Regions from separate parts of the Homo sapiens genome. Here region 1 is linked to region 2. The links come from fine-mapping of genetic effects on gene expression. A gene starts in region 2. The other region holds a variant in brackets. All regions are shown on one strand. Distances are from middle to middle.

Region 1 (5,000 bases), 73 kb after region 2:
AATAAATAAATAAATAAATATCCCCTGCTTTCTACTTATAGCATTGTAAGAATAAAGACTCGTTTGTAAAATAGAGCATTTGTTTTGTAGAATGTTCCTTGTTATGGTTTTGTCTATGTCTTGTGGTTATCGCTTTTTTTTTTTTTCCTCCAACTTTTAAGTTCAAGGGTGTATGTGCAGGATGTGCCGGTTTGTTACATAGGTAAACATGTGCCATGGTGGTTTGCCGCGCACATCATCCCATCACCTAGGTATTAAGCCCAGTATCCATTAGCTGTTCTTCCTGATGCTGTTCCTCCCCCACCATCCCCCATCAAGCTGCCCCCACCCGATCTCCACCCCCGGCTGACAGGCTCCAGTGTGTGTTGTTGCCCTCCATGTGCCCATGTGTTCTCATCATTCAACTCCCACTTATAAGCGAGAACATGCAGTGTTTGGTTTTCTGATCCTGCATTAGTTTGCTGAGGATAATGGCTTCTAGCTCCTTCCATGTCCCTACAAAGGACATGATCTTGTTCCTTTTGTGGTTAGCTTTTTTCTCTACCCCCTGTGTTTTCTATGAAATGGAAGTTGGATCTAAGTTTGATAAGATCCAGGTTAAACAATTTTAGCAAGAATGCCTCACAGGTAACCTGTGTGATTCATAGTGTATCACATCAGGAGGCATATAATGTCTGTCTTGTAATTAATGATGCTAATAACTTTGGCCACCTGGTTGAGGTAGTGACACACCAGATCTTTACATTATGTTTTCCTTTTTATGCTAGTAACTAACCTGAGGGGTGATATTTTAGCACCATGTGAATGTCCAGCTCTTCAGTAATCCTTCACTTAGACACATTAACATTTATAGGTGTCCCTTTCCTGAATCAGCTATTCTATAAGGGTTTTTAGAGTGGTGATTTTTCTAATTCTCTGATTTCTTTTTCATTTTTAGCTGGCAGTGTTCTATAAAGATCTGTCCCTTATTAGCTGGGGCTATTTGGTTACCTTGACATAGAGTTTCTATTGAAAATGCAGGATAAGTGCTTAATGCTCTTTATTTAATTGCTAATATTTAGAATAAAGAATTGGTATAATAATATCCGGTGGTATCAACTGCATTCTCTCTCCACCCGTTCCTCTCAGAAGCACCGTTTTGGACTCATGGATTTTTATATATTTAGTGTGTTATAGTTCTAACCATTATTCTGTTTGATACTGAAAAACTTATACATTTGGTCAGTGGGAGCTATTTCAAGCCAGTTCCTATCTGCTTTTAGCATAACTTTACTAATCTTTGAATACTTCCTTGTTTTCTAGCATATATCCTGGTATGATTTGTGAATTCCTAGCCTGAGACCTGAAATCGGCCATTTCTCCAAGATGCAGTGGTTTCTTTTAGCGGGAATGCTATTTAGATACCAAAATTTGAGTGAGCCTGATGCTTCTTGCTATTCGAGTATCCCTGCTTCTAAGCCTTTTTATGGAACAGAACTGGGAAACATGTTCTTTAAAAAATCATGAAGGTGTTTATAGACTAAGTTGCTTTGAACCAACCCTTTGCCAAAAATAACTAAAAGAGCTAAACAAAAAGTGTAACTATTTGAAATCACTGAAAGCTACCAGGGCAGTGAGAAATTGCAAAATCAAGATCTCAGCAAAGAGGGAAGCTCAGTTACATGAACCCAATCATTTGGGACTACCTTCCCCCTAAAGAGATCCTCTAATTCCTAATGCAGTGGGTGACAAATAGAATTTGAGTAGAGTTTTTGACAAACCCTGTGGTTGGGGAGTATAAAAATTGGAGTTCATGGCCGGGCATGGTGGCTCACACCTGTAATCCCAGCACTTTGGGAGGCCGAGGTGGGCAGATCCCCTGAGGTCAGTTGTTTGAGACCAGCCTGGCCAACATGGTGAAACCCCGTGCCTACTAAGAATACAAAAAGTAGCTGGGCGTGGTGGCAGGCATCTATAGTCCCAGCTACTTGGGAGGCTGAGGCAGGAGAATTGCTTGAACCTGGGAGGCAGAGGTTGCAGTGAGCCGAGATGGGTGACAGAGAGAGACTCCATCTCAAAAAAAAAAAAAAAATTGGAGTTCATAAGCAGATATTCAGGGCTTGTGGTTGGGACTCTGAAAGAATACCCCTTAGCAATAATAGTGACCTGGAAGTAGACTGGCTTTCACAAAGACTGAAGACCAGTTTCAAATAATCTCTATCCCCTGATAGGATTAATTAAGATTAGTTAAGAACCAATTGCCAGGACACTTAAGCTATATGTTTGCCAGAAGCAAATGTAATTCCTCTTTGGAAGAAGACAATATCATTCAGAAACTTAAATTATCCTGCAGATTTTCATATGTAGTCATTTCTCGGTATCTGAGGAGGATTGGTTCCAGGGTCCCTCCGCCCATACCAAAATCCATGGATGCTGAAGTACTTGATTTAAAAAGAAAAAGGTAATTGCATATAACGTATGTACATCCTCCTGTGTACTTTAATCTCTAGATTACTTATAATACCTAAT[G/A]CAATGTAAATGCTCTGTAAATAGTTGTTACACTGTATTTAGGGAATAATGATGGGAAAAGTCTACATGTTCCATACAGATGCAGCCAACCATTTGTTTTTTTAAATATTTTTGAGCTGTAGTTGGTTGAATCCACACATGTAGAACCCATGGATATAGTGGGCTGACTGTACAATATTGAGAATTCCATTCTTAAAAAATAAGTAAATGCCTTTTATTTATTACCATTTATATGATTACGAATATATCTCCCAGTTTGTAACATTTTACTTTCTTAATGGAGTCATGATGAATAAAAATTCTTAATTTCAATATAGATAAATATAAGAAGCCTTTTCCTTTTAGTGGTTATTGCCTTTGTGTCTTGTTTAAGAACTCCCCTCTCTCTCTCCCTCTCCCTTTCTCCCTCTCCCTTTCTCCCTCTCCCTTTCTCCCTCTCCCCCTCTCTCCCTCTCTCCCTCTCCTCTCCGTCTCCGTCTCCCTCTGTTGCCGAGGCTGGACTGTACTGCCGTGGTCTCGGCTCGCTGCAGCCTCCCTGCCCCGGGCTCCCGTGGTTCTCCTACCTCGGCCTGCCAAGTGCCTGGGATTGCGGGCGTGCGCCGCCACGCCTGACTGGTTTTTGCATTTTTGGAGGAGACGGGGTTTTGCCCTGTTGACCTGGCTGGTCTCCGGCTCCTGACCTCAAGTGGTCTGCCCGTCGTGGCCTCCCGGGGTGCTGGGATTGCAGACGGAGTCTCACTCACTCAATGCTCAATGTTGCCCAGGCTGGAGTGCAGTGGCGTGATCTCAGCTCGCTGCAACCTCCACCTTCCAGCCACCTGCCTTGGCCTCCCAAAGTGCTAAGATTACAGCCTCTGCCCGGCCGCCACCCCGTCTGGGAAGTGAGGAGCGTATCAGCCCAGCCGCCCATTGTCTGGGAAGTGAGAAGCGCCTCTGCCCGGCCGCCCCGTCTGGGAGGCGAGGAGCGCCTCTGCCCGGCTGCCCCATCTGGGAGGCGAGGAGCGCCTCTTCCCGGCCACCCCGCCTGGGAGGCGAGGAGCACCTCTGCCCGGCCGCCCCGTCTGGGAGGCGAGGAGCGCCTCTGCCTGGCCGCCCCGTCTGCGAAGTGGGTGCCTCTGCCCGGCCGCCCCATCTGGGAGGTGAGGGGCGTCTCTGCCCGGCCGCCACCCCATCTGGGAAGTGAGGGGCGCCTCTGCCCGGCCGCCCCGTCTGGGAGGTGAGGAGTGCCTCTTCCCGGCCGACCCTTCTGGGAGGGGAGGGGCGTCTCTGCCTGACTGCAACCCCATCTGGGAAGTGAGGAGCGCCTCTGCCTGGCCGCCCTGTCTGGGAAGTGAGGAGCGCCTCTGCCCGGCCGCCCCGTCTGGGAAGTGAGGAGCGCCTCTGCCCGGCCACCCCATCTGGGAACTGAGGAGCGCCTCTGCCCGGCCGCCCCGTCTGGGAAGGGAGGAGTGCCTCTGCCCAGCCGCCACCCCATCTGGGAAGTGAGGAGCGTCTCTGCCCGGCCGCCCATCATCTGGGAAGTGAGAAATGCCTCTGCCCGGCCGCCCCGTCTGGGAGGCGAGGAGCGCCTCTGCCCTGCCGCCCCGTCTGGGAGGCGAGGAGCGCCTCTGCCCGGCCGCCCTGTCTGGGAGGCGAGGAGCGCCTCTGCCCGGCTGCCCAGTCTGGGAAGTGGGCGCCTCTGCCCGGCCGCCCCGTCTGGGACGTGAGGGGCGCCTCTTCCCGGCCGCCCCGTCTGGGAGGTGAGGGGCGTCTCTGCCCGGCCGCCACCCCGTCTGGGAAGTGGGGGGCGCCTCTGCCCGGCTGCCCTTCATCTGGGAGGTGGGGAGCGCCTCTGCCTGGCCGCCCCATCTGGGAGGCTAGGAGCGCCTCTGCCCAGCTGCCCATCATCTGGGAGGTGGGGAGCACCTCTGCCCGGCCCATCATCTGGGAGGTGGGGAGCACCTCTGCCCGGCTGCCCATCGTCTGGGATGTGAGGAGCGCCTCTGCCCGGCCACCACCCCATCTGGGAAGTGAGGTGCGCCTCTGCCCGGCCGCCCCGTCTGGGAGGTGAGGAGCACCTCTGCCCGGCTGCCCCGTCTGGGAAGTGAGGAGTGCCTCTGCCCGGCCACCCCATCTGGGAAGTGTACCCAATAGCTCCGAAGAGACAGTGACCATCGAGAACAGGCCATGATGACGATGGCGGTTTTGTTGAAAAGAAAAGGGGGAAATGTGGGGAAAAGAAAGACAGATCAGATGGTTACTGTGTCTGTGTAGAAAGAAGGAGACATAGGAGACACCATTTTGTTCTGTACTAAGAAAAATTCTTCTGCCTTGGGATGCTGTTAATCTATAACCTTACCCCCAACCCCGTGCTCTCTGAAACATGTGCTGTGTCAACTCAGGGTTAAATGGATTAAGGGTGGTGCAAGATGTGCTTTGTTAAACAGATGCTTGAAGGCAGCATGCTCATTAAGAGTCATCTCCACTCCCTAATCTCACGTACCCAGGGACAC
Region 2 (5,000 bases):
AAGCATTTAAGCCATCCTACATATGAACAGAATCTGAGATATAAAACCAATAACCCAGATTAATAGCCTATTAGAAAAACAGATTATGAAAATGAATAATTCATACATTCTTCTGTTTTTGAAAATAAATTCTAATTAGTCTGCCCAGCTAGGCTTAGTGGAAACTGAAATCAATCTCATGGGAAGACAGCCCACACCTCCAACCCCTGTCATCTTTGGAGTCCCAGAGGATGAACCGCTGCCGCTAAACCTCCGGACCAGGAAAACAGTCCTAGTGGGTTTTTTTGTTTTGTTTTGTTGTTGTTGTTTTTTTTTTAGATTACAAAGTAATACATGATTATTTCAGAAAATATAATAAAACAGAGATATAGCATAAAAGAAAAAATATTCTAAATCCCATCACTTAGAGGTGAATACACCTAACAATTTAGTGGATACATCTCTGTCTTTTTGTAATACAGATACAAAAATAGGATCATATGACGCAAACTTCTCAGTCACCTGGTTTTTTTCACCAAACACTATATTTTGGACATGGTTCCATGTCCATAACCGTGTGTCTACATTTTTCTTTTTAGTGGCTGCCTCATGGTTCATCATTTGAATTACTGTATTTGATCAATCCTCTGTCACTAGATATTTGGGTTCTTCCTTTTTTCTTTCCAGCATTAACTCTGCAACAACGACGAAATTCTATACACACATCTTTGTGCCCATGTCCAATTATTCCTCAAGATAAATTTCCTGAAGAGAGATTACTGTGCCAAAGAGCTTGTATTTTATGGGGGGCTTCTAACCCACATTGTATACCCCACCAACATAGAATGTGCTTGTCCATACTCTCTTATTCAGATGACCCAATGTGTTCTCTTATCAATGCTTTTATCCCTCCTGTGGGTTAACCATGAATGAAACAAAGCAAGGGGGTTGGGATGGGAGGCAGTTGAAACAAACAAGAAATTTAAAAAGAGTTCTTTAATTCCTTCTTTCTAGTCCCTCCCACACTCTAATGTTTTTTTCCAATTTGGAACTCTGGCCTGACTGGTTCCACCCTCAGCTCACACACCAACTTTCCCTGCCCATGCCTATTCTGTATTTTTGAGATTGGGTCAGTCTCTCCTCACTAGCGAGTACATACATTCCTTTGAGGTGAGGGACATCACCTTCAGTGTCAAGGTTTGGACAATATCATCAAAGGGTCACCAAGACATGCCCAAGAATTCTGAAATTTCAGAACCAGGCTTGTTAGAATCAGTTGTTTAACACAGTCTCCCACACTGATCTGCCAGCCACGAGAACAAAGCCACATGGAAGCTAAAGACACAGGGGCAGTGTCCAGTTGCTGGCTGGACATTCCTACACCTCCTCCTCTGATTCTCAATGCTCCCTGGGCCCATCCCCTTCCAACTCCTCCCCCACTAGCCCGGCACTGAAATGCCCTTGTTCACTTTATTTTAAATGGGCACCATTCGGAGGCTACATTCTCACAGTCCATTCTTTGCTTCCCGTTCCTCCCTTGCTCCATGACCTGGGATCATGATCCCTTTCTTCCTAAAACTTTCACCCCTAGTTTCAGATAGTTGACAGTTTTGCACAAATAGTAACATTTCCCCGTAATTACTGTTTTTTTTTTCCTTCCTTATCAAAAGGGGCTGGTCAAAGCCAACCTTGTTCAGTTTATGAACCCAACTCCTTCCTCCCTCAAGACTGACACAGAGATTGACGTAAAGAGTACGCTCGGCCCGGTTAAATTTATAAGCACAGAACCAGGTATCGCATGCTTGTCCATGTGACTCTTTTTTTTCTTTTCTTTCTTTCTTTTTTTTTTTTTTTTTTTTTTTTTTTTTTTGAGACGGAGTCTTGCTATGTCACCCAGGCTGGATGGAGTGCAGTGGCGCGATCTCAGCTCCCTACAAGCTCCGCCTCCCGGGTTCACGCCATTCTCCTGCCTTAGCCTCCCGAGTAGCTGGGACTACAGGGGCCCACCACCACGCCGGCCTAATTTTTTGTATTTTTAATAGAGGCAGGGTTTCACCGTGTTAACCAGGATGGTCTCGAACTCCTGACCTCGTGATCTGCCCGCCTCGGCCTCCCAAAGTGCTGGGATTACAGGCGTGAGCCACTGTGCCAGGCCCATGTACAAAATAAAGCACCCGGAACTTTGCACCTGGACTTATCTACACTCGACAATCTTTGTCCTAGGAACTCAGGGAGTCCACACCAGGCTTTTAACACCCTTGAGACTGAAGGAGGGAAAAGGCTGTAACTGGCAGCGACAACTGGGCCTAGTATAACGCGAACTCCAGTTTTGGCCAAACCTCCTCCAACACACATGTGCAAAGCCACATTCTCATGAAGAGGGGGCAAAACATTTGCTTTCTGGGTTTAACCTTCTACCATCTCAAACCAACTGTGCCAAAAATTTCCCTGTTCACCAGGATTCATCAAAAAACGTACATTTCTATTTTCACCGATTTTAAGAGAATAATTAACTGCTCTATTTTTACAAAAAATACACAAAGTGATACAATCTAAAGACTAATCCTCAGACAAAATCAATTGCTAAACATTGGAGGGGCAAAAGGGGAGACCACGCCGCAAAAGCACGGAGAGGCAACTTTCGGCACCGCGGGAAGGCCCCGACCACGCTGCGGCTCCGCCTCTCCTCCCGCCCCTCGTTCGGTAGTCCGGTAGCCCCGCGGCTCCCCGAATTCCCCGCCCTCGGCCCCTGCGGGCGCACCCTGCAGGCCCCGCCCCGGCCCCGCCTCATCGCGACGTCAGTTGTTATGTCTCGGCTCCGGCCGCGGCCGCCGCTGATACACGGTTGTGGAGGGTACGGCCGCGGTCTCCGGAGGTGGCGGGGGTGTTGGGGACGGGTGCTGCGACCGGCACTGCCCATCCGAGCGGGACGGGCGCTGAGTGGCCGGGAGGCAGCCGGGTAGCCGCCTGGAGGAGCAGTCTCGGGGCCTATTATTGGTTTTTTCCCTCCGAGACCGATTCCATCTGCAGAGACCGCGACGCCCCATCCTGGGCCGGGCCGCAGTGCCCGCCCGCCTGAGAGGCGCCGCCCGCCAGCCGGCCCGAGCGAACCTGGAGCCGCCGCCGTGCCCGCCGCTCTTCTCGCGGAGCCTGGGCGGTCGGCGGGGCCTGGGGCCTGGGCTTCGGGCGCGGCGTTGCGGCGGCCGCTCCTCCCCGCGCAGAACACGCTGGGCCCCGGGCCTGGCCCGGCCGAGCGCCGCGCCCTCCTGACCCGCGGCCGCGGGAGTCCGGCCCCCACGGCCCCTCGGGCCCCGGCCTGCCGCCCGGATCCCCGCCTCCTGGGCGGATCTGAGTTATTTTTTGGTCTCCCCCTCCCCCTTGAGATCGCGGCACCGGAGGGCCGACCCCGCCACCTGGGTCAGTGCCCGCCCCGGGGGAAGCGTCCCTCGTTTTGTTCTTCCCCGCGAGCTCTCCCCGCGCCCCTCTCCTTTCTGTGCTTAATGGATGGGGGTTTTGAGTTTTTCCCCTTTATTTTTGTCGGCTCTTGACTGGGAGGCCCGGCGCGAGGCTCTGCGTCTCTGCGTCCCTCGTCGCCGCCTCGCGCCCGCGCGGATCCCGTCACCTGCTTCCCCGCCGGGGATGGCCGGCCAGTGACGGCGCCGGGTGGCCCGCGCGTGGACACGGGGCCCTCGCCCAAGCTGCCACCGAGCCGCGGCCCCCGCCCTCGACCCTTCTCTCTCCCGTATTCCGAGCTCTCTGGAAAGAGAGGAAACTCCAGGGAAGATGTGGCTGAAGCTTTTTTTCTTGCTCCTCTATTTCCTGGTCCTGTTCGTCCTGGCCAGGTTTTTTGAGGCCATTGTGTGGTATGAAACTGGCATCTTTGCCACCCAGCTGGTGGATCCGGTGGCGCTGAGCTTCAAGAAGCTGAAGACCATTTTGGAGTGCCGGGGGTTGGGCTACTCAGGGTTGCCCGAGAAGAAGGATGTCCGGGAGCTGGTGGAAAAGTCAGGCGAGTATCGGGCTTCCCCTAGGGTCCCCTCCACCTGGGAGAGGGGACGACCTGTACCTCCTGGTACCTGGCTGTTCCCCCAGAGTGAGGCCTTTCCTGGAAGCGTTAAAGCTGCCCAGGTTTCTTCGTCCAAGCTTCCTACAATCAAGTATGCGGATCCCAGCTTTGAGGAGGAGTCTGAAATTATTTGGAGGAGTGTTGGTGTATCCTTTTAAGGTTATCGTAAAATGACAGTTTAAAGTGTGGCTTCTTAGCGTTGTTTACTAAGTTGAGTGATTTTCTCAAAATTCTGGAATATCAACTAGTTACAAACTGGAAAGCATTATTTGTCAGTTGAAGTTCATAAAAACGTAAGAAAAACTCCAAAACGTTGTCTGTCAATAGCAATATTTGTCACGATAGTAATAATAAGATACCCAGAGTGGGGACACATCTTTGGAATACTTACTATCAGAGGCACTTGGGCCTAGGATTTAAATGTTAAATCATGAGTTTGAATATAGACAGTATACACCGTACAGTATTAGCTTTTCAGACTTTAAGTTTGGTGAAAATAAGGCGAGCATTTTGTATAAATGCCTGCCATGTTCGAGTTTATATTATATTTCTGTTAGGATTTTTAAAAATTTGCATCTTGGATGTGTAAAAGAAAAATTTTTTTTGTCTTCTGTGTCACAGGTACCCTTGCATTGTTTAATGGGTTGAGAAATATACGTGAAATAGTGCTGAGAGAATATTCAATGTCTTAAAGAATGTGTTTTTAGTAATTGTTGGTTTTGGTAGGATTGGGTGAGAAATATGGTTAATTTTTTTCACTGCTGCACAAAGTATATCTTTGGATATACTTCCTGAAAGTGGAATGTAATTTGAGAAAGGCTTTCTGCGTTGCTGTGGGAAGCAGCTGAAACTGATGGTTATCTTTTTTGTTGTTTCAAGTATTTTTGTCAGCTGTATCTTTTACAAGACAAATCTTTTCCTTCTTTAGTACCTTATAGACATGTAGCGTGATAGA

Evidence for each region. PIP is the estimated chance that this variant, and not a neighbour inherited with it, causes the effect. A credible set is the group of variants that fine-mapping cannot tell apart.
Region 1: its variant is the best candidate, but not a certain one, in a credible set for the expression of RNF103 in whole blood (TOPMed, PIP 0.61).

Annotation. Positions count from the first base shown.
Region 1 is chr2:86,548,351-86,553,350 of GRCh38, reverse strand. All of the region lies in intron 3 of RNF103-CHMP3 (RNF103-CHMP3 readthrough), which reads left to right. All of the region lies in intron 1 of CHMP3 (charged multivesicular body protein 3), which reads left to right. Among named protein-coding and RNA genes, the nearest start is that of CHMP3-AS1, 11 kb to the left of the region's middle. RefSeq lists an enhancer at 463-632. The variant G/A (reference allele first, on the strand shown) is at 2,509.
Region 2 is chr2:86,621,649-86,626,648 of GRCh38, reverse strand. RNF103 (ring finger protein 103) reads left to right here and starts at 2,784. Exons shown (of 4, transcript NM_005667.4): 1 at 2,784-3,988. The coding sequence starts at 3,763. All of the region lies in intron 2 of RNF103-CHMP3 (RNF103-CHMP3 readthrough), which reads left to right. RefSeq lists silencers at 2,594-2,763, 2,844-3,383, 3,654-3,733, 3,914-3,963 and an enhancer at 2,589-2,883.